Linked DNA regions of Homo sapiens: region 2 is linked to region 1. The links come from fine-mapping of genetic effects on gene expression. A gene starts in region 1. The other region holds a variant in brackets. All regions are shown on one strand. Distances are from middle to middle.

Region 1 (11,129 bases):
ACCTCCCAGAGGAGTAGATATTTAATAAATATGCCAAGTGCCTGGTGAGCCACTCACACCTGGCCACCAGCTGAGAGGGTGAGGCTTCCAGGCTCTCGCGGGTTTACACGGCTGGTTGGGCTGATGAGCCACTTGGGAGCTTTCTGGGTGCAAGTCGGCACCTCGTTTGGGTCCTGAAAAAATAGCATTTCTGGTCCTGTAAAGCCGAGGACACATTTCTAGACACAGTGACCTGCGCCCGGTCTATACTGGTGGGAAGCACTCCTGGGAGATTCACTGCTTCCCACTCATGGGCTGGGCCTGTGCCTGGCTGTGCCATGTGGGACACCACGATGCGTGAGCAAGAATCGCGCCCCACAGGGTCCAAGCAAGCAGGAAGTCAAGCGGCGGCGCCGGCGGCAGAGTGGAGGCGGGGGAGGCACGGGGCGGGCGGGGGCTGCTGCGCCTTCCAGGAATGAAGAATGGTGGCGAGGCCGGAGGGAGGCTACCCAGTGAAGGGACGAGCATGGGCCAAGGAAAGGAGGGGGAGGCCTGGGGACCCTCCTGCCCAGCCCAAAGCCCTCACCTTTGAGTACATCGCAGCCCATCACCGAGAGGCGGCCGCTCTCCACCAGGTAGCCCACGGGCACGTTCCAGCCCACTGTGCGATTGATGCCCGTGTGGCAGGACTTCACGCCTTTCAGGGTGTCAATGGTCACATGGGAGCTCCTCCTGACCACAGCCACGGCGTAATAGGAGGTACCGACCTCTAGGAGGGGAGGGGAGTGGGTGAGGGCAGCAGGGAGAGGCCTCGAGAGAGGCTGCACCAGCACCCTGCCTGGGCGGGCTGTGGGAGAGGTGTGTGCACGGAGCACGGCTGTACACACGGATGTGTGCATAGCGTTCTCGTTACCAAGAGAGCAAGTGGGCTTCATCTGCATGTATTAAGAGGCCCTGCCCTCTAGCCTCTTGAGGTAGAGACGATCCTGAGATATTGATGTATTCATTGATTTCCCCCTCTTCCTTCCCCAGCAGCTGGTGCTTAGCTGGGTCCACATTTGCTCACATCAGGGGAGTTATTTAGCTGGACAGAAAGCAGAAGCCAGCAAGTCCTTGCTTTCCAAGAGCCTAGGCCCCTAGGAGAACTTGGAGGGTTTGGGGGAATGGTGTCAGGGTCATGGGAAGAAGGGTGTCTGGGAGGAGCAGGGGAGCCGAGGAGGGGCTTCCCCAGATGAGGAGCGGCGATTTCCTGGTGCTGAGGGGGTTGAAGGAGAGTGAGACAGAGGCAGAGACAGAGAGAACTAGCGATGTGGCCCCAAGTCGCTCACGACCCTGAATGCTGCAGGGTGTGTGTGGTGGGGCCAGGGCTCTGCAGCCTTGCAAAGCGTTCCCCTGTGCCAAGGTGGCTCCAAGGGGCTGCTCAGGCAAAACACAGACTCAGCTGTGGGAACTGATGCCCAGAGGGTCTCCCATCGCACGGGCGCACACACGCAGGCATGCACGCGTGCACAAACTGCCCGGTGGTGTGGGAGGCCATATCAGAATGAAGTTGAGTTCTAGAACATAAAGCCAGTGTTACTTCTTGCACACCAGGGTCTGGCCCCCGCCAACCTGAGTAGCTCCGTCTGGTACCATCCTCTGACTCACCCGCCTTGTTTCTTACCAATCCTCTGGACCGCCTGAGATGGTTGCGGGGCTCAGCTTACCCATCACCTCTGCAGAGCACCGTCCTGCCTGCTCTATTTCAGTGGATTTCCCCGCAACCCTCGTTTTCTCTGTCCTGCCCTTCCCTTTTCCTCACAGCACCCCAACATGTGTCACTGTATTGTTTTGGGTGTGTTTATTTACTCTCTGCTCTGTGGGGGCAGGAAGGTCTCTTCGTTTACTGCTGCATGCTTATGACCAGCGGGTAGCAGGTGCTCAGTAGAGGTGTCGAGTTAATTAAAGAGGAAGAGGTGCGTGGGGCCTCGGAGGCAGAGCTGTTTCTGGCTGATGGGTGTGCAGGGTTGGACTGTGCCGTGTGTCATTTGATGGCCATTAATTCAACAAGGAACCAGCCAGTGCTTTCTCCAAGCGAGATGCTGTGTGGAGTTCCAGAGGGTAGACACAGGGGAAGACTGGACCCTCCTCTGAGGACTAACGAGACTGAGCAGGCAGAGGCTTGCAGAGGCCATGTGGGTGCGGGCAAGAGAGGCCCTGCTCCAGAGAGGGAGGGGCTCAGGGAGCACCTTGGAGGAGGTGACAGTTGCGCTGGACTGTGATGGAGGCCAGGCACCGGCCAAGCAGAGGTGGCGGGGGAGACACAGGAGCTGGCTGAGCTGGAGGCAGGTCCCATGTGTGATGCGGGGACTGGGCAAAGGAACTCACACTTTCCAGCACATACCACATGTCAGGTGGGCACACGGCCTGGCTCATTTAGTCTGGGTGACAGCGCAGGTGTTACTATCCCCATTATACAGTCTGGGAAGTGGAGGTTGGCCAAGGTCACAGAAGTCATGGGAAGGGGAAGGGCTGGGTCTGCTGAGCTGTGCCGCTGCCAGACAGCACCTCCCTACCCGGAGCCGGGCTTCTGAAGGGAGGCCCTGAGAGTGCAGGTGGCTCGGCATTAAGGACGCCTTGCTCACCCAAGGCAGTTACGCACACAGCACCGTGCCCGGCACCACGCCAGGCCCGGGACAGCCCGCAGTAAGAGCTGAGTGGGCACAGGCTAGGGGGCTGCTGGGCTCCCTGCGGGCAAGAGCAGACTTGGGGCAGCTCTCTGTGTCCCTGGAGCTCCTGTCCCTGGGGAATTTGAGAGAGCCTTAGGGCGTTCTTCTGGCTGGGACTCCAGGACTGCTCTGTGGACAGGGCTGATGGCCAGCTCAGGCCAGGCCCAGCAAGGGCAGCCTGGAGAGCTGACTTCCAGCGCAGGCTGTCCTCTCTCCTCCCACTGCACCCTCTTACCTTGATCGTACACTTCGCCCACCACCGGCTTCAGGCCGTGCTCCTTTCCCGCCTCATAGATGGCTCCTCCATCCAGAGTGATGGCGTCAGCCTCCTGGGCCTGCAAGGAAATGTGGCTCAGCCAAGCCTGGCCCAGCTGGCCTGCTCAGCAAAGAACTCGGGACACCTACCAGATGGCCTGGGGCCCCACCCCAAGCCCCAGAGGGCTGTGCTGTCCTTCTCATCTGTCCCAGGAGCCCAACCAGAGCCCAGGGCTCTCCCCCTTTCCCAGGCCAGGGATTCACCTTGTTTTCCTAATAATGTTAAAAAAAAAATACTAATCATTGATTTTGCAGGACTCAGATATCATAGTAAAAAAATCAGATAGCAGAAAACGGTGCGCAGTGACAAGTGAGTCTCCCTCGCTTTCTGTCCCTCCACCCTGCGCCTCTACTGCTACCCTAGGTTTTCTAGCTTTTTTTCTCTAAGGTGGTCTGTGCTTGGGGTTTCTGCCCTCACATGGAGCCTGACCCACAGCCTTGGCCCCAGTGTGGGCCTGTGATTGGATTAGGTCTTGGGGGCATATGGGGGGCAGAGCTGGAATGAAAAGCCAGCTTTCTTTGCACCCACCCAGGAGGGACGCCACTCTCTGGTGGTGCCTCGGAGGATTGTCAGTGTCATTTAGCAGTTCTCAGCAGACCTGCTCTCCTACCCCATGCTCACCCACCTGGGAGTCCAGCCCCTGCTCCTCCTTCCCCAGAAACCACACAAGCCCCATTCTGGAGAGCCCCATGGCAAGATGAGCAAGTAACCGCCTGCGGCCACTGAGGGGCCGCCACCATCTGGGCCCCCTTGGCAGGGGCCTTGTGGAAGGGAAGCCTCTCAGGTGCCTTTCTTTGCTGGCGCCCTCTGAGCAGCGGGTCCTCCTGAGGCTCCCACCTCCTGGCCTGGGCCCGGCGGGAGGCAAGCTGGCCTCGTGGCCAGGGAGACTCGGGAGATCCTATCGGCCGGGCCTGGCAGGGCGAGGTCGGCTCCTTTCCTGGTGAATGGGGCTGTTGTGTGCTCCCTCCTGAGTCACAGCCCTCTTGTCTGGCAGGGTGGAAGGGAGAGGACTCACCGCGATGAGCTGGACGCAGTGGTCGGCGGAGGTGCCCCGGACGCAGAGGAGGGAGGGCTGGATGCCCGCTTCCCGGAAGGCCTCGCTCATGTTGCCGCACTTGTGCTGCTCTGGGTCCGAGGTGGCGCACCACCGCACCTCCATGCCACCGAGCACTGCGGGCAGGGGACCGTGAGGCCCGGCTCCCCCGCCCTGCCCAGCCCCGGCCCACCATGGAGGGTGGCTCCAGCAGTTCTGTGTGAGCCCATTCGCCTGGACAGCCAGTCCTCTAGGGCAGCCCTGCCCTCCCACAGGGAGGCACTAGGCGCAGAGACAGGGGAAGGGCTGGTATTCCTGTGCTCAGGGCCTCTCTGACCAGGAGCACGGCTGCTGGCAAATGGAATGGCTCAGAACCCGGCCCTTTATGGAGGAATGGGAGGGTCTACAGGTCGCTTCTCAGCTACCCCCACCTGGTGGGAGCACTGGCTAGGGAGTCTCGGCAGGCCCTGGAAGTGGAAGCTTCTTCCCCTCTCCAGGCCTCCCGAAGAGGGTGCTCGTGTAGGTTCCCTCACCCAGCAGTGTCCCTGGGCCTTCCTCATGAACTGGGACGGGAGAGTGAGGTGAGGGGGCTGTGGGTGGGCTGCCCTCCAGGAGCCCTGTCCCCTCGGGGAGTGTCTGCGATGATGCTGGCTGCAAAGCCACCCTCGGTGGGCACAGTGCCAGGCCCTGCCAAGGGAAGACGGCAGGCACAGAGGGGAGGCTGAGGACCCATCAGGGTAGGTTCAAGCCTCTCTGAGCCTGCTTCATCTTCTGAGAGAGCAGATAAAAACCCCACCTTCTGTGTTGAAAGTAAACCCCCTTGTAGAGAGCCTGAGACACCCACATCCTCAGTGGACTTCTGCTTATGCCTCAGGATCTGACCGGGTCAGAGTCCCCGAGAGCTCCCAGGCTAGGGGCCCAGAGGAAGGGGTGCTGGAGCCCCTTGGGGCCGATGACTTTCAGGCCTGAGCTCCTCTGCCATTCACCCTGCCCCAGCCAGCACTGCCAGAGGCCTGTGCAGGAGGGAGGGAAACGCATGACTCCGCCCGAAACCAGGTCACCCTCCCGTGGCAGCCCCACCAGCCCAAGGGCCGAGACTGAAGCTTCCGCCACAGCCCTCCCCTCCCCACTCCTGGCGGAGGCCTGGGAAGTCGAACTGCCCTCCCCTCCGCAGCGCTCCAAGCCCCCCACCACCCAGGCGGGAAACTGCAAAGTTCAGACGGGGCGGGGGTGGCGGTGGCTTCATCGTTTGCATTGATGAGTGCGTCGCCTGCGGCCACAGCGGTGCCACGAACTCCATCCCCTCGGCGGTCGCCGCCCGCGATCCCCGCGAGCCGCTCCCCGAGGTCCCGCCTCCCGTCCCACCATCCCGGGCCCTGACTCCCCGGGGCGCCGACGCGAGGGGACCCGGCCTCCGTCTCCACCTCCATCCCTGCATGTGCCAGAAACCCCCGGGCGGACTCCCGCGCCTGCCGGTCAGTCCCTCTGAATCTTCTCCCGCGGGGGCTCGGGAGAAAGAGCTGCTCCGAGCCCCCAAAGTCTTCCTGAGTTCCTGCGCCCGTCGGGAGGGGCCGCCCTCCGGGAGCTCCTCTCCACACCCCGAGGCCTCCCCACCACGCCTCAGCCCGCGCTTCTCCTTGGAGCGTCGGAAGCCTCGGGTGTTCGAGGCCGCCTCCTCCAAGAAGCCTTCCAGACTTCCCCGTCTGCGCTTCAGTGCTAGTTCCCTCCGCCGTCCTCACTCGACCCCGAGCCCCTGCCTCCCCCGTCTCACTGCCCCGGAGCCGCAGGCTCAGGCACATTTCCAGCCCCGGGACCTGCTCAGCCGGGCCGCGGCGCCCCGGGACCCCCGCCCGCCTTTGGCTCTCACAGCGGGGCCTCACCGGTGCGCAGAGCCAGGAGCAGCCACAGAGCCCCGCTCGGACCCCGCATGGCGCCGTCGGGGCTGGCTGGGGCCGGGCTGGGGCTGGGTCCGGGTCCGAGGAGGTCCGCAGCAGCCGGGCTTCCTCCCTGCTCCCCCTCGCGCTGGCCCGAGCTCCTTAAGTGCGGCCGCGAGTTCCCGGGCGGAATCCACGCCCCTGGGGCGCAGGTCACCTCCCGCCGACCCCGGACCCCGCCCCTGGGCGGCCCCGGCGCGCCCCCTGCTGGAGGCCTCCCGCTCGGGCCCGGGCGCCGCTGCTCGGGGCTCTCGCCTCAGCCTCCTACCCCGCGTTCCAGGGTATCCTCCCCTCCTCGCGCCCTAGAAAGACTCCAGATACCGTGTCTAACTGGAGAGAGAAAAGCTCAGACGTGGAAGGAAGGAGAGGTCAGAATCCCAGAGTCGGGGCTGGAGGGCAGCTGGAGGATGATCTCATTCACGCAGCAGCTCCCTCCCAGCACAGCTGCACAGAGGATCTGGGATACGGGGGAGCCCAGGCCGAGCGCCCTGGCGAGGGGGGAGCCGGGCAGGGGCATCTCGGCCACAGCTGCACAGAGGATCTGGGATACGGGGGAGCCCAGGCCGAGCGCCCTGGCGAGGGGGGAGCCGGGCAGGGGCATCTCGGCCACAGCTGCACAGAGGATCTGGGATACGGGGGAGCCCAGGCCGAGCGCCCTGGCGAGGGGGGAGCCGGGCAGGGGCATCTCGGCCACAGCTGCACAGAGGATCTGGGATACGGGGGAGCCCAGGCCGAGCGCCCTGGCGAGGGGGGAGCCGGGCAGGGGCATCTCGGCCTAGCCGACTGCCTCTCCTCGGGCCTAGAGACGGGAGGTGACTTGCCCGAGTCAGGCATCCAGTCAGTGGCAGAGCCAGCTGATTGGAAGGTGAGAAGAGGACCAGAGAGGAATTGGAGGAAGCGGAAAAGGAGAAACAGGCGGAGAAGGGGAGGAAGAGAGTGAAGAAGGTGAGGGAGGAAAGGGTGGGTTGACCGTATTTCTAGGACAGTGGTTCTCAGTGTGGTCCCTAGGCCAGCAACGTGAGCATCACCCTGGAACTTGCTGGAAATGCAAGTGCTCAGGCCCCACCTCCGACCCACTGGATCGACAGCTCTGGGGGCGGGGCCCACAATCTGTTTTTATTTCGGGGCACAGCAAATGTTGAGAACCACTGTCGCAGGCGGGCAAAAGCGGCACTCCCCATGTGGTTGGGGATGCGGGGAATGAACTGAAGACATTGTTAGTCACCTGCCTCCATTTAGGCCTCACCTTTATGTCATCAGCCCCTCTGAGACTCAGAAATGATGTCTCTCTCTGACATGGGTAAGTACAACAGTGAGAGAGAAGACATCCCTCTGAGTTTGTCTGTCCTTGAGCTTGCTCTGCGCCCTGGGGAAGGAAGGCCTCCCTCCTATGGGGCCATGAAGCTACTGCTTATCACACACTGGATCAGGGGAAGGAACATGGGCTGGGCTTCAGGAGACTCGAGCTCTACTTTTTAAAAACCAGCGACTTACAGACCCTGGGCGAGTTCGTCGCCCTCTCTGGGCTTGTTCCCCACATGTAAAAGGTAGGTCATGATGGCCGTGACGTGCCATACTTTCCGTCTCCTGTCTGCTCTGGAGGACTTGTGCTGTGGAAGCTGTTTCTCCATCCCCCCAGATGGATCCCTTCTTCCTAGTTTGCACAAAGGTGCCGAATGGACTAGCAGGCAGCCTTGCTAGAGGGGCTGATGGCTTGTCCTAAGAAGATGGAATAAATAGAAGAGTCCTTAACAAGCCTCGTTCTCCTGACCACGAGGATAGAAAGGCTCAGTTGGCACACTCCAGGAGCCACCAGATGACTGGCAGGATCTGTTTGATGACTAAGTCCTTCCTTTGGCAAAACTCCACGTGACGCTGATAGGGAGTGAGAACAACCATAACCTAAGAGGTTTGCTGGGCTCTTTCACAATGAAGTTCTTCCCTTATCTCTTGGGTGTCATTCAGCTGTGACTCATCAGTGAACTTGCTGCCTCTGGGTTCTCAGGGATTCTACATCGGGCCCGTTGGCCCAGGGTTGGCATGAACGCGCATCACCTTTGTGGAATGGGGAAGTCTGCCTCAGCTTGAGCCAGGATTCTGCCATTTCTGGGGTCCGGACATACTTGGGTGTGCCAGAGAAATGGGTGGGATGTAATGAGAGAGTAATAAGCCAGTAGTTTAACCCACAAACAGCCTTCTGGAGGAGCAGAAGCTGAGGTTAGTTTGGTCCCCATTCTAGACTCATATTGAGATTAGAGGGAGAGCATACAGACTAAAGGAACTGGTTTCACTGACACTTCGATCAGATTCTGGGGCCTAAGCAGCTCTGCCTGAGTCTCCCTGACCCTACCCCATAATATGAAATAAAAAGAGCTCTTCTCCACTCTTGCCAAAGACACAGCTCTGGCTCTCCAAGGATTCAGAGTGCCCAGAAGCATTGAGCTTGCTTGTCAGGGAATCGAGGAACAGTACATCCCATGGAGGGAATACACTACAGGCAGCCTCAGAAAGTGGGGGCCTTTGACAGGAGACTGAGAAGGTCCATCAGCAGGTAGTGGCTAATGAGCCAGCAAAGGGTGAAATCCTTTACCCAAAACGAAGTAAAATATTGTACTTAGGAAAAAATATTTTTCAACAAATCATAATTTCTGTCTGTCTATTTCTATGGCCCGCAATGTCTTTAAGAACAAGCCAAATAGTTTTTATTCTGGGGAACCCTTGGAAGGCTGGTGTGCCCTGAGAAAGTTTGGGTGTGAGCACCTGCAGTAGTGTGATGTCAGAGGATGTTACGCTCTTGCTGACTGGTTGGGGTGTCAGCACCTGCAGTCGTGTGATGTCAGAAGATTTTACACTCTTGCTGACTGGTTGTGGTGTGAGCACCTGCAGTAGTGTGATGTCAGAGGATGTTACCCTCTTGCTGACTTGTTGGGGTGTGAGCACCTGAAGTAGTGTGATGTCAGAGGATGTTACACTCTTGCTGATGGGTTGGGGTGTGAGCACCTGCAGTCGTGTGATGTCAGAAGATTTTACACTCTTGCTGACTGGTTGGGGTGTCAGCACCTGCAGTAGTGTGATGTCAGAGGATGTTACACTCTTGCTGACTGGTTGGGACATGAGCACCTGCAGTAGTGTGATGTCAGAGGATGTTACACTCTTGCTGATGGGTTGGGTGTGAGCACCTGAAGTAGTGTGATGTCAGAAGATTTTACACTCTTGCTGACTGGTTGGGGTGTGAGCACCTGCAGTAGTGTGATGTCAGAGGATGTTACCTCTCTTGCTGACTGGTTGGGGTGTGAGCACCTGCAGTCGTGTGATGTCAGAAGATTTTACACTCTTGCTGACTGGTTGGGGTGTGAGCACCTGCAGTAGTGTGATGTCAGAGGATGTTACACTCTTGCTGACTGGTTACTGTGTGAGCACCTGCTGTAGTGTGATGTCAGAGGATGTTACACTCTTGCTGACGGGTTGGGGTGTCAGCATCTGCAGTAGTGTGATGTCAGAGGATGTTACCCTCTTGCTGACTTGTTGGGGTGTGAGCACCTGCAGTAGTGTGATGTCAGAGGATGTTACACTCTTGCTGATGGGTTGGGGTGTGAGCATCTGCAGTAGTGTGATGTCACAGGATGTTACGCTCTTGCTGACTGGTTGGGACGTTAGCACCTGCAGTAGTGTGATGTCACAGGATGTTACACTCTTGCTGACTGGTTGGGGTGTGAGCACCTGCAGTAGTGTGATGTCAGAGGATGTTACACTCTTGCTGACTGGTTTGGGTGTGAGCACCTGCAGTAGTGTGATGTCAGAGGATGTTACACTCTTGCTGACGGGTTGGCGTGTGAGCACCTGCAGTAGTGTGATGTCAGAGGATGTTACTCTCTTGCTGACTGGTTTGGGTGTGAGCACCTGCAGTAGTGTGATGTCAGAGGATGTTACACTCTTGCCAACTGGTTGGGGTGTGAGCATCTGCAGTAGTGTGATGTCAGAGGATGTTACACTCTTGCCAACTGGTTGGGGTGTGAGCATCTGCAGTAGTGTGATGTCAGAGGATGTTACTCTCTTGCTGACTGGTTACTGTGTGAGCACCTGCAGTAGTGTGATGTCAGAGGATGTTACACTCTTGCTGACTGGTTGGGTGTGAGCACCTGCAGTCGTGTGATGTCAGAAGATTTTACACTCTTGCTGACTGGTTGTGGTGTGAGCACCTGCAGTAGTGTGATGTCAGAGCATGTTACACTCTTGCTGACTGGTTGGGTGTGAGCACCTGCAGTCGTGTGATGTCAGAGGATGTTACACTCTTGCTGACTGGTTGGGGTGAGTACCTGCAGTAGTGTGATGTCAGAGGATGTTACACTCTTGCTGACTGGTTGGGACATGAGCACCTGCAGTAGTGTGATGTCAGAGGATGTTACGCTCTTGCTGGCTGGTTGGGGTGTGAGCACCTGCAGTGGTGTGATGTCAGAGGATGTTACTCTCCTGCTGACGGGATGGGATGTGAGCACCTGCAGTAGTGTGATGTCAGAGGATGTTACGCTCTTGCTGACTGGTTGGGGTGTGAGCACCTGCAGTAGTGTGATGTCAGAGGATGTTACTCTCTTGCTGACTGGTTGGGGTGTGAGCACCTGCAGTAGTGTGATGTCAGAGGATGTTACGCTCTTGCTGGCTGGTTGGGGTGTGAGCACCTGCAGTGGTGTGATGTCAGAGGATGTTACTCTCCTGCTGACGGGATGGGATGTGAGCACCTGCAGTAGTGTGATGTCAGAGGATGTTACGCTCTTGCTGACTGGTTGGGGTGTGAGCACCTGCAGTAGTGTGATGTCAGAGGATGTTACTCTCTTGCTGACTGGTTACTGTGTGAGCACCTGCTGTAGTGTGATGTCAGAGGATGTTACACTCTTGCTGACGGGTTGGGGTGTCAGCATCTGCAGTAGTGTGATGTCAGAGGATGTTACCCTCTTGCTGACTTGTTGGGGTGTGAGCACCTGCAGTAGTGTGATGTCAGAGGATGTTACACTCTTGCTGACTGGTTACTGTGTGAGCACCTGCAGTAGTGTGATGTCAGAGGATGTTACACTCTTGCTGACTGGTTACTTTGTGAGCACCTGCAGTAGTGTGATGTCAGAGGATGTTACGCTCTTGCTGACTGGTTACTGTGTGAGCACCTG
Region 2 (11,129 bases), 26 kb before region 1:
TGAACAGTGTTCTTCAAAGTGAGGTGGCTTGACCGGCAGCATCAGACCACCTGAGAACCTGCCAGGCTGGGGTGCAATGGTGCAATCATAGCTCAGAGCTCACTGCAATCTCAAACTCCTGGGCCCAACCAATCCTCCCCTGTCAGCCTCCCGAGTAGCTGGGATCACAGGCAAACACCACCACGCCTGGCTAATTAAAAACACTTTTGTGTCTGTGTGTGTGTGTGTGTGTGTGTGTAGAGGTTGGGCCTATGTTGCCCAGGCTGGTCTTGAACTACTGGCCTCAAGCAATCCTCACATCTCAGCTTCCCAAAGTTCTGGGATTACAGGCGTGAACCACCATGCCTGGCCAATATATACATTTTTAGAGATGGGAGTCTCACTATGTTGCCCAGGCTGGCCTCAACTCCTGGGCTCAAGCAATCCTCCTGCCTCAACCTCCAAGTAGCTGGGACTACAGGCATACACCATTGCACCCAGCTTCGCAGTCTATGTTTTAATAAACCCTCAGGTGATCCTCACATACGCTCAAGGCGAGAAGCTTTGACGTATATGACTCTCCGCTGTGAAACCCAGCTTCTGGCTTGTTAGCACCAACGCAGAGGCAGCTGAGAAAGGCAGAAACAAAAAGAGCCCACCCGGCCCCTCTCACTTCAGCACAGGCAACAACCCCGTGAAGACTCAGATGTGTTTTAGTCTAAGAATTACTGTTAGAGCTAGAAATCGTCGAGGCCCCATACCCGCTTCTCAGTTTATAGATTTGGGAACTGAGATGGGGAGAGGAGAAAGTATTGGCCCAGGGTGAATACCAAAGTGGAATGAGAATTCAAGTTTCCTGAATCTTAGGTGAGTGAGCTGGTTTTTATTCCACAAAATTGGAATATCTTTTTTTTTGAGGCAGGGTCTGGTCTGGAGTGCAGTGGCACCATCACGGCTCACCGGAACCTCCACCTCCCAGGCACAAGTGATCCTCCCACCTCAGCCTCCCAAGTAGCTGGAGGTACAGGTGTGGGCCACCACACTGGGCTAATTTTTTTAAAAATTGTTTGTAGAGATGGGGTCTCACTATGTTGCCCAGACTGGTCTTAAATTCCTGGGCTCAAGCGATTCTTCCACCTCAGCCTCCCAAAGGGCTGGGTTGACAGCGGTGAGCCACCACACCCAGCCTAATTAATATATCTTTTTAAAAAATTGTAGCATTTATACCTATTGTAAATGTTGTGTGAATCTTTTTCAAGAATGTTGTCCTGAGGAACACATCCTCATTGTAAACAGTCAAGAACACCTGGGGAGGAGTCTGAAGCTGGGGGTGACGGCTTGTGCCGTGTGGGCCACAAGGCCCTGTCTATCCTGTCACTGTCCCTCCTGCACAGCAGTGTTCTTCTACCACACCACCTCGGTGGCCTCTCCAAATGAGACCAAGGGGGGCAGGGCTAGTAGGCCGTGTACTTACTTCTTTGTACCTTCCAGAGCGCTGAGCACAGGGCTGTGCACACAGCAGGCTGGCCGACCCCAAGCACTTGTGGGGCCTAGGACAAGAGTACCAACAGAGGCCCGCCTACCATGTGGCTCCACATTAAATGTTACAAATCAAGCTAACAAGCTATTAAAGAGAATGTGTCCTGTCCTCCTACTTTGACAAACAAACCTTTATAAAGACTCAGCAGCCTAGAATAGGAGCTGCGGACAGAACAGGCTTCCCCGCCATAGCCCACCCGCTCTCTTCCCATCCAGGCTGCAACCCACGCTTCGAGGGCCTTGCGCATTGCAGAGGACACGGCAGCCTGCTCATCACGCTCAACTACACCTCCTGCGAGAGCTTTGGCCACCTTGGGAGGCAGGATCTAGGTAAGGGGCCCTCCAGACCCTGGAAGCTGGCTCAGGGCTGTTTGAGGTATAAAGTCCAGGATCCCAGGTATCTGGAACATGGTGTGAAAAATGGGCTCTGGGGCCAGGTGCGGTGGCTCATGCCTGTAATCCCTTTGGGAGGCCTTTGGGAGGCCGAGGTGGGCGGATCACGAGGTCAGGAGTTCGAGACCATCCTGGCCAACATGGTGAAACCCCATCTCTATGAAAAATACAAAGAGTAGCCATGTGTGGTGGTGGGCGCTTGTATTTCCAGCTACTTGAGAGGCTGAGGCAGGAGAATCACTTGAACCCGGAAGGCGGAGGTTGCAGTGAGCTAAGATTGTGCCACTGAACTCCAGCTTGGGCAACAGAGCAAGACTCCGTTTCAAAAAAAGAAAAGATGACCCCTGAGTGAACGCATCCCTTTTCCCTGTGATTGCTCCCTCTGTGGGTGGGGTGTGGGGTGTGGTCTGGGGGAGGCCTCTGAAGGCTTGCTTCTCAAAGTGTGGTCCCTGGACCACCAGCACAGGCACCACCTGGGAGCTGGTCTGAACTGCAGACTCTCAGTCTCATGCTGGCCCTTCTGAACCAGAGTCTACATTTTAACAAGATCCCCAGGCAGTTAATGTGCACATCAAGGTCTGAAAAGCACTGCTTGAAAGCACAAAACCGAGGACTAGAATCCCTCTTGCCTAGGTCTAGGGGTGGTACTGACAAGTAGGTATCAGTAAGTATTTGCTCAACAAATGGCCAATAGCCCTACAACAGGCCTGGTAGCCATGGGGGTGCTGGGGCATGGCTGCCTGACTCACAAGGATTTCATTTCCTTTTTCTGGGGCCTCGGTGGCCATGTGTCCGCTATACACCCTGCTTCTGGCCTGTGCTGACTGGTCCAGTGGTAGATGCCTGACGCACACTGGGCCAATCAGATGATCTCTCCCAGGAATTCCAAATTGAAGACAAGAAAACAGGCTCTGGAGTAATAGCAGTAGTGACAGTGAACATCCTTCCTGCACCCACCGTGTGCCAAGCACTGTGCTGAGTGTTTTGTGTCTTAGACTCTATGCCATGTGCCAAGCACTGTGCTGAGTGTTTTGTGTCTTAGACTCTATGCCGTGTGCCAAGCACTGTGCTGAGTGTTTTGTGTCTTAGACTCTATGCCGTGTGCCAAGCACTGTGCTGAGTGTTTTGTGTCTTAGACTCTATGCCGTGTGCCAAGCACTGTGCTGAGTGTTTTGTGTCTTAGACTCTATGCCGTGTGCCAAGCACTGTGCAGTGTTTTGTGTCTTAGTCTCTATGCCGTGTGCCAAGCACTGTGCTGAGTGTTTTGCATCTTAGACTGGATCTTCACAACCACCTCACCAAGCTGGTGATCGTACTGTGTGTTTTTCAGATGAGGGGCTAGGGTGCCCAAAGGTTAACTTTCCTTTCCAGAAGTTCAGGGTAGGGAAGTGGTAGCATGAGGCGAGCTGGAGTGACTGTGCAGCTGAGACTCGTCCATGTGATGCAGAGACAAAGTCGGTCAACTCTGGCCATCCAGGTCCCCAGGAATTGACTGGCTTTGTGATAACTGAGCCGACTTCATGGAAAATGGCCTGTGTGCAGTGGTGGGCAAGACCTGGCTCTGGGAGATGGCCACAGCGGCGAGGGGTGGTGGTGTGGGGGCCAAGTGAAGCCATGAGAGAGGGAAGCAGAGAAAACCTCCCCTTCCAGAGGGAGAGCAGAGCACTGATGAAGACCAGCCGGGCCCACCCCCACCTCAGTAGATACCACAGAGCACCCACTGTAGGGTCTCTGGGAGATCCGCTCCCCACGCCCCCCTCCAGTGAGTTAGCAGCGAGCTTGCCAGAGAAAAGATGTGGGCCGCTTATTTTGGAGGTGTGGGGCAGGGGGCAGCAGAGAAGTTTGCACCCTTCTCTGCACCCATCCACAGAAGGGCAGACACCCCAGAGCCTGATGGGGTGGAGGCAGCTGGAATGTGCCAGGGCAGCGGAGGCCCTGCAAGAGCCAGAGAACCAGTCCAGGTCGAAGAAGGGCGCGGGGGGCCTCACTGACTAGAGGATGAGAGTGGTCCCTGACTGGCTCTTGGAGAATGGAATCTGCCCTTCTCGGTGGAGCAGGTAGGCCTTTGAGTGCCTAACAAAACGAAAGAAATCGGCAGCAGAAGTTTCTATCAGGGTCCAAGCCTCTGCATGTGCTGGCTTGTTTGGCTTTATTTTAGAAACCAACCAACATGTTTCATTAGCACTGACACAGCAGGGGTCCCCTGCTGCCACCTGACAATCCAGCGTCACTTACACTGCACCCACGCAGGCCACACCTTCAATGGCCACGGCACGCTAGCCCAGAGTTAGCCACACAGAAACACACTTCTCACCGCACAAAACTCCCTTTTGAAAAAACCAAGCAATCGTCAGGTCGGAGGAGAATCACTAGCCCCCCACAGCGAGAGGGGACAAAGCTTGGTGGCCGAGGCCCAGGTCCTTGTGGCCCCTCCCGGTGGGGTGAAGGTGCCCGGGACTCCTCGGGGTTGCATGGCTACAGCCGGGGCGCTGCCAGGGCCTCCTCTGCGGCTGAGAGATGGAAGGGATCCTTCCCGACGCCCGCAGGTGGGGGCGAGCCACCGGGAACCGGGCC[T/C]GTCACCAGCATCCCCGAGCCCCCGCAGACCGGAATGCAAATGGCTCCGCGCCCACGCGGCTCCCGGTCTGCTGACGAGGGCTGCCTGCTCCCATTTCTTCTCTTCCTCTTCATTTTTTTTAAGGGCTGCCAGTTCTGGAAACTTTTTCTGGCTTCTCAGACAACTGTGGCAAGATGGAGTAGAGAGAGGCCCCGGCCGGGCGCTTTCTGCTGCCTCGCGGAGGGGCGGGCACGGGGAGTGAGGGGTCCCCAGGCCCAGCGGGTGCGGGGCCGGGTGAGGAGACGGAGCTCACCCCCGTTCGGAACCCAGAAGCATGGCGGGTCCCCACGCGCAGCCCTTCAGGGGCCTCGGGAGCCCGCGGCCTGGGTCACCTCCGGCTCCCTTCAGGCGGGGGGCGGCTGCTGCCGCCAGGCTCGGGCGTGGGTGCGGGCGGTGGGCATCCCACGGGGGTAGGGGAGGCGAGAGCCTGAGGAGACTCGGGAGGGGGCCCGTGGACGCGGCTGGCCCGGGATGGAGCTGGCGCGGCCACAGTGGGGGACGAGGCAGGGCACGCGGCGTTCCCCGGGCTCGGCCTCCCTCCCAGCGCACGGGCGGTCGGAGGAACTGGAGCCCCCACCCCGGACACGGTCCCGCGGGCGAAGGCTTCTCCCCGTCGCCCCGGTCCGGCCTCCCTCCCGCCGCCGCCAGCAGAGGCCGCTGTCCCACGCGCCGGGTCCCGTTGGCGCCGGGGCCTCCTGGGACGGCCTGGCCGCGGCCTGCGGGTGTAGGCGCCTCGGCGGCCACCGCGTCCCCAGGGGGCCTCGCGGACGGGGGCGCGGGGCTGCGGGGAGGAGGCGGGCGGGCCCCTCGGGCGACACCGCGGGGCGGGCGGCGGGAAGCCCGGACTCAGCGGTTTCCTGGGCAACCGGCCTCCTCCGGCGCGGCCCGCGCGGCTCCAGGTGGCGGGAGGCGGCGGTTGGCGGGAAGGGCCGCGCGGGCCCGGGGGCGGCGCCTCAGGTAGCAGCGCCAGGTGGCGCCCGTGGGCGGCGGGGCTCCCGGGGAGGCGCCTGCTCCCGCCCACGCCGGGCCCGGCCTTCGCGAGCTTCCTTCTGGATTCCAGCGCGAAGCCGCCGCGGAAACTCCCCGGGCGGGCATCGGAGCTCTGGGGCGGGGCGGCCGGGCTCAGAGGGCGGGCGGGAGCAGGCGGGCGGCGAGGGCGGGCAGCAGCAGCGGGAGCAGGGGCGCCCCGGGCGCCGGGGCCGCTGGGGACGAACGCGGCGGGTCAGGCCCCGAAGCCCGGGCCGCGGTGGCCGCCTCAGGCGCCCGCTCTGGGGTGGGGGTGGGGGCATCTTTCGGGACCGAACTCGCCGCAGCCTCCCTCTTTGTGCTCCTTTCCCCTGCTGCCCTTCCAGATGCGCTCTTTCCAGAAAGGCAGCACACGCATGTCTCTGCCGTGGCCCCAGATCCTCCCCGCGCCGCCGTTTTGAGCGTTCACACTCATTACCCAGGTCCGTCTGGGAGACCCGCCGGGCTCCCGCCCTCCCGGCCCGCAGCCTCCTGGCCAAAATCCTCCCGGGACACCCCACCTGGACTGCTGCGAACGGGCCTCCACCCGCCTCCCCGGACCCGCAGCGCCCCCCGCTCCCTCAGGGTTCTGGGGTGAAGGGGTCTGAATAGCACCAGGGGAGGCGGCAGGGCGGGCCTGTCCTACCTGCGCCCGAGCACTGCTGAGACGACATCCCTTCCAGCGCCGCCACGTAGTCCAGCCCCAGCCAGCCGCGGTAGGTGGTTTTCTCTCCGACAGGCACCGCCCGGACGGTGGCATCCTTGAAAAGCAGGTCTTGGCCATGATAGTTGGAGGAGTCGAACATTTTGAACCCGTTCTTATTGTGGTCGTCTCCAAACAGGTCCTGGAAGCACCGCAGGCAGACGACCTGCTCCTCACTGGGCTCAGGCAGGGTCACCCGCCCAGTGCCGCTAGCTGCAAATTGCTTTACATACAGTGACCCAAAGAGCAAGTCATTTCAGGGCCCCACCACTCTGATTGGAAGTCATAAGCTTGACAACTGATTGGCCTCTGTCACCCAAGCGGGTGTGGGGACACTAGGCCCGCAGGTGCCACTGGAAGAGGCGTTCAGAAGCACTGCGGTGCTCCAGCTCCTGGATGCAGGTCTGAGGCCTGAGATGTCCAGGAAGAAAGACCCAGAAATGAGGGATGGTGTGGGTGGGATTCCTGAGCGTTCTGCTAGGCCTGCTGAGCACTTCTTGGCCTTTTCCATAAGGCTTTCTCACTCTGTCTTACAGATATCTCCCCACAAACCTAAACAATTTCGAGAGGGACTTGTGTTCTGCAACCAGTCACAGAATATCAGGTGAGCTGGGCGTGTCTTCACTGACCCACCCGCCCAGGGATGCTGCACTCCTCTCCACCCTGCTCAGAATCACTAGAATGACCGTTCTGTGGCTACAGCCCTAAAAGAGCTACTAAAAAGACCAGAAGTAGTATGAGAACTTATGAATACGAATATAAATAAAGGACATCTGGAGAACATGCATGAATGTCTATGTAAAGTGTTAAGTACTGATCAAGGAGGAACGAAGGAGTCAGGTGGCTCTCAGTCTTTTTGGAGGGACTCGCAGATCCTCCTGAAGATCTGATGAAAGCTGTCAGCCTTCTCCCCAGAAAAATGCACATCCACCCAGGATTCTTCTCCCACATTACTTCAGAGGACTTAGCAACCCCCTAGGGAAGCCCAGGGACCCAGAGTAAAGCACTCCTGGGATAGAGGGGTTCTGTGGGGAAGATGACAGGAAGGAACATGCGTCAGTTCACAATGTCAAAGTTTAGGAACAGGCCTGGCGAGCCAGCCAGCTCTGCAGTTCTGTGGTGCTGGTGGGTGTGGAGAAGGCAATTTCAGCATAAGTCGGGGGAGGGGGAGTGGTTAGAAACCAGTGGCTCCATTGTGAGACAACCTGGGTTTAAATTCTAGGTATATTTTGAAAGCACAACCAATGGGATCTGCTGATAGATTGGCTGTAGAGCACGAGAGGAAGACCGGAGTCAAAAATGACTCCCGAGGAAATGGAAAAGCTAAAGTTGCTCTTAATTGAAGTGGGGAAGACTGAAGGAGGGACGGGGGTCCAACTTTGGACTTGATCCATTTGAGATGACTGTTAGAAACACAAGTCAAAATGTCAAGTATGTAGTTAAATATGCAAGTTTGGGACTGATGTCTGAAGATGTAAATTTAGAAGCCATCTGTATATAGATGGTATTTGATGACATGGGATTGGATGAGATCAAGGGTAAGCTGTAGACAGGGAAGAGGGCTGAGAACTGAATCCTAGGGCTAACAGGTCAGGGAGATGGGGAGGAAATCAGCAGAGAAGACTGAGGAGTGGCCAGAGAGTGAGAGGACAGCCAGGCAGGGCTGAGGACCTGGGCATCTGCAGGGGAAGGTGTTTCCAGGAGGAGGGAGAGCTGTGGCCAGTGCCACTGAGAGGTCAAGTAAAATGAAGACTGAGAAATGGCCACTGGGTTTAGCAACATGGGTCACTGTGACCTTGACAAGAACAGCTTCAGGGCCCTGGTGGGAGCCTGTCTGGGGTAGTCTCCATCCTTAAGAGGGGCCAGAGGAGAGGACTTGCTAACTCAGTCTCCATCCTTAAGAGAGGCCAGAGGAGAGGACTTGTTAACTCCAGAGCAGACCACTCTTTGGAGGAGTTTTGCTTCGAAAGGGAGCAGGATTGGCCGGGCACAGTGGCTCATGCCTGTAATCCCAGCACTTTGGGAGGCCGAGGTGGGCGGATCACGAGGTCAGGAGATCGAGACCATCCTGGCTAACACGGTGAAACCCCTTCTCTACTAAAAAATAGAAAAAATTAGCCAGGCATGGTGGCGGGTGCCTGTAGTCCCAGCTACTCAGGAGGCTGAGGTGGGAGAATGGCGTGAACCCGGGAGGCGGAGCTTGCAGTGAGCCGAGATAGTGCCACTGCACTCCAGCCTGGGGCGACAGAGTAAGACTCCGTCTCAAAAAAAAAAGAAAAAAAGGGAGCAGGATTACAGCTGCAAGAGGATGGATGTGAGACCAAGAGGTTAGTTTGTTCTTTAAGGATGGCAGAAGTCACAGCATGTTTCATGTTGGTGAAAATGGTCCGACTGAGAAGGGAAAATCAACGATGCAGGAGGCAGAGGGGACAGTTTCTGGAGGGATGTCCTTGCGTAAGTGAAAATCACAGAATTTCCCCCGGGCTTCCTCAATTTCTCTAGAGGTCTGCTCCAGGTAGACTGAGGCCTCCCAGGGGCTCAGCTTACCTCTGCTGCACACCCCTCAATGAGGTAGCCCCACCCTGGCTCACCTGGGCCTTGTCCAGCAGTCCATACACGGTGAAGATGTTGGTGTCGGGCCGGACCATCACGGCGTGGGGTGGTATCTGTGCCAGGTTGCAGGCTGCAAACTGGGACACCTCGGCTCGGGCCCCGTTGGGGCACAGCAGTTCATAGTCCTCTGACCTGAGCTCAGCAGCCCAGGGCTCGGAATTGTGGCCTGAGGGGGGTAAAGCAGTGTGTGTGGGGACGTTCCGGGAGTGGAGAGAAGTGTAAAGAGAAGCTGCTATCCTGGGACCCCAAGGCCTTCACCACAGGGAGGTGGCAACATCTGGCCAGCTCCCCAACCCTCTCCATTCTCCACGTGCTCTGCTGTGTTACCGGGGTGAAAGAACCCAGCTGTGTTCATGCCATTAGCAGGAGCTGCCATTAATTAGCAGGGAGTAGGGAGTACCTACTATGTGACAAGTACTTTACACGCGTTGCTTGATCCCCACAACAGTAACGCAGGGTAGGTGTTTTTGTCCCCATTTTACAGGTGAGGAAACTGAGGCTGTTAATCACTCCCAGGCAGAGAACCCCATCTATGTGTTACATCCTCAAGCCTGAGTGTGGGGTGGCTCCCTGAAGGTGGTGGGTGATTGTCCCTAAGGGCTGAAGTTCTCAAATGGAACAGGGTATAGCATCACTTGTGGATGCAGAAGGCAGCTTCAAGGGCCCTTGCTTGCAAAGAATCTTATTCAGGAGGTCTCAGATCAGGCTCAAGAATCTGCATGTTAAACCAGCATCCCACTGATTCTAAAGCAGGCGGTCTCGGGCTGCCTGAGAAAATGCTGCCCTCAGGAATCACATTTTCATGTCTCTGTGCATTCACTTAGTATCCATCCTCCTCCCATTTCCAGGAAATCCAGGTGGGCCTTGAGGAGAGCTAAAGATAAAAGGGAAAGGAGTGGCCCTGGGAGGCGGGTGACTCACTGCAAGTGAACCTCCCAAGGCCTCTCCAGCACCTGCCCGCCTCCCCTGACCCCATCCCAGACGACACCATGCACAGATCTGGGACCAGGCAGGCCCGCTGGGCTCGTGCAGGAGCACACAGCCCCTCCCTGGGGGAGGGTTTCAGGTGTTCTTGGTAGGAGGCTGGGTGGGGGAGCTGGGCTGTGGCAACAGGAAGGGTTCAGGGCCTGGAGCCCTCCCTAGCTCTGCTGGGGCAAATGGTCCTACCGCCTTGGTGACCCCCATAGGAGGCAAGATCCAAGTTTTGAAACACTAACTGAGGTTTTCGTTTTTTTCCCTGCACGTCTTGCTTCCCATTGTCCAGTCCCCTCCCCACCGGGCCACAGTTGTGCCTTTCTGGGCTAAGTCTATAGGAGGAGACATGTTGGGAGCGAGTGGAGAAGACTGGGCCTCCAGCATTTGGGGTTTCAAAGCCTGGGGTGTAGGCAGGGTATGCAGACAGTACAAGCCTTTGGTGTTGGAGGAAAACAGCCTCTAGTCTTCAAAACGGACACAGATTCCTTCACGGAGAACAAGAAGAAGGGGAAGTGATATAAGTCAGGGGAGCGTGTGCTCTGATAGGACCATGTATGTACTGGGGTCCCGGAGCAGAGCGTTCCTGAGCTCTTTGTCCCAGGCGGAGCCCAGGAAGGTGACTCCAGGAAGAAAACCCCCTGTGTGGTATGTTGGGCGTGCCCTGCCTCGGTGTGGCTTGGGGGCTGCAGAGAGATTTCCTTGCATGAGGCAGTGACCTGCTCAGGAACACAGACCAGATACTGATTGAACTCATGACCCTGTGGAGAGGCTCATGCCACTCCCACCTCACACCTTGGCACTACATCAATACTCCCAGAAGGGGGTCTTTCCAGATTGACTGGGATTGAGTTTCTACCGTTTCGGTGGATTAGGGACTTGAATTCCAGGCCAGTAAAAACCGTCATGTATCCAGCACCCCTGGATGTGTGGTCTGAGGTCTGTTCTTACCCTGTGACCCTTGGGGCTCCCAGCTTCCCAGGGGGCACAGCCTTCTAGACTCAGCCTCTCTGAGCTGCTGCTTGGCCCCAGCCCAGCATGGTGTCTGGATGGTGCTGAAGATGGGGAACAGTCCCCCCGACCTACCTTTGGCCCTGCTCTTGCCCCCACCTACCGTTTGTGTTGTCAAAGACGGTTGTGTGCCTGACGAAGGCAACGTCACCCGCATTCTCCACCAGGCACCTGCCACACAGAGGGCAGGGCAGGCGTCGGCAGGAGGGTCCCAGCCTCTGCACACAGCCCCAGACTGCCAGGCCACCCGGGTACCTGAAGGCGCCGCGGTAGCCGTAATACCGCTCCTGGCTGTTGCCC

The links.
Region 2: its variant is fine-mapped to the expression of MELTF in nasal epithelium (TOPMed, PIP above 0.99).

Annotation. Positions count from the first base shown.
Region 1 is chr3:197,023,738-197,034,866 of GRCh38, forward strand. It overlaps MELTF (melanotransferrin), which reads right to left and starts at 6,080. Exons shown (of 16, transcript NM_005929.6): 1 at 5,917-6,080; 2 at 4,019-4,173; 3 at 2,923-3,022; 4 at 566-748. The coding sequence starts at 5,965. RefSeq lists silencers at 5,343-5,522, 5,713-5,762, 5,813-6,302 and enhancers at 5,836-6,472, 6,473-7,109, 7,497-8,696, 7,801-8,095.
Region 2 is chr3:196,997,725-197,008,853 of GRCh38, forward strand. MELTF (melanotransferrin) reads right to left here. Exons shown (of 16, transcript NM_005929.6): 12 at 11,085-11,129; 13 at 10,933-11,000; 14 at 8,825-9,012; 15 at 6,177-6,375; 16 at 4,016-5,727. The coding sequence ends at 5,648. It overlaps MELTF-AS1 (MELTF antisense RNA 1), which reads left to right and starts at 5,182. Exons shown (of 4, transcript NR_038285.1): 1 at 5,182-5,249; 2 at 5,878-6,246; 3 at 6,373-6,635; 4 at 6,770-7,020. It also overlaps the pseudogene RPSAP30. RefSeq lists silencers at 4,681-4,760, 4,911-5,700, 5,741-6,140. The variant T/C (reference allele first, on the strand shown) is at 4,486.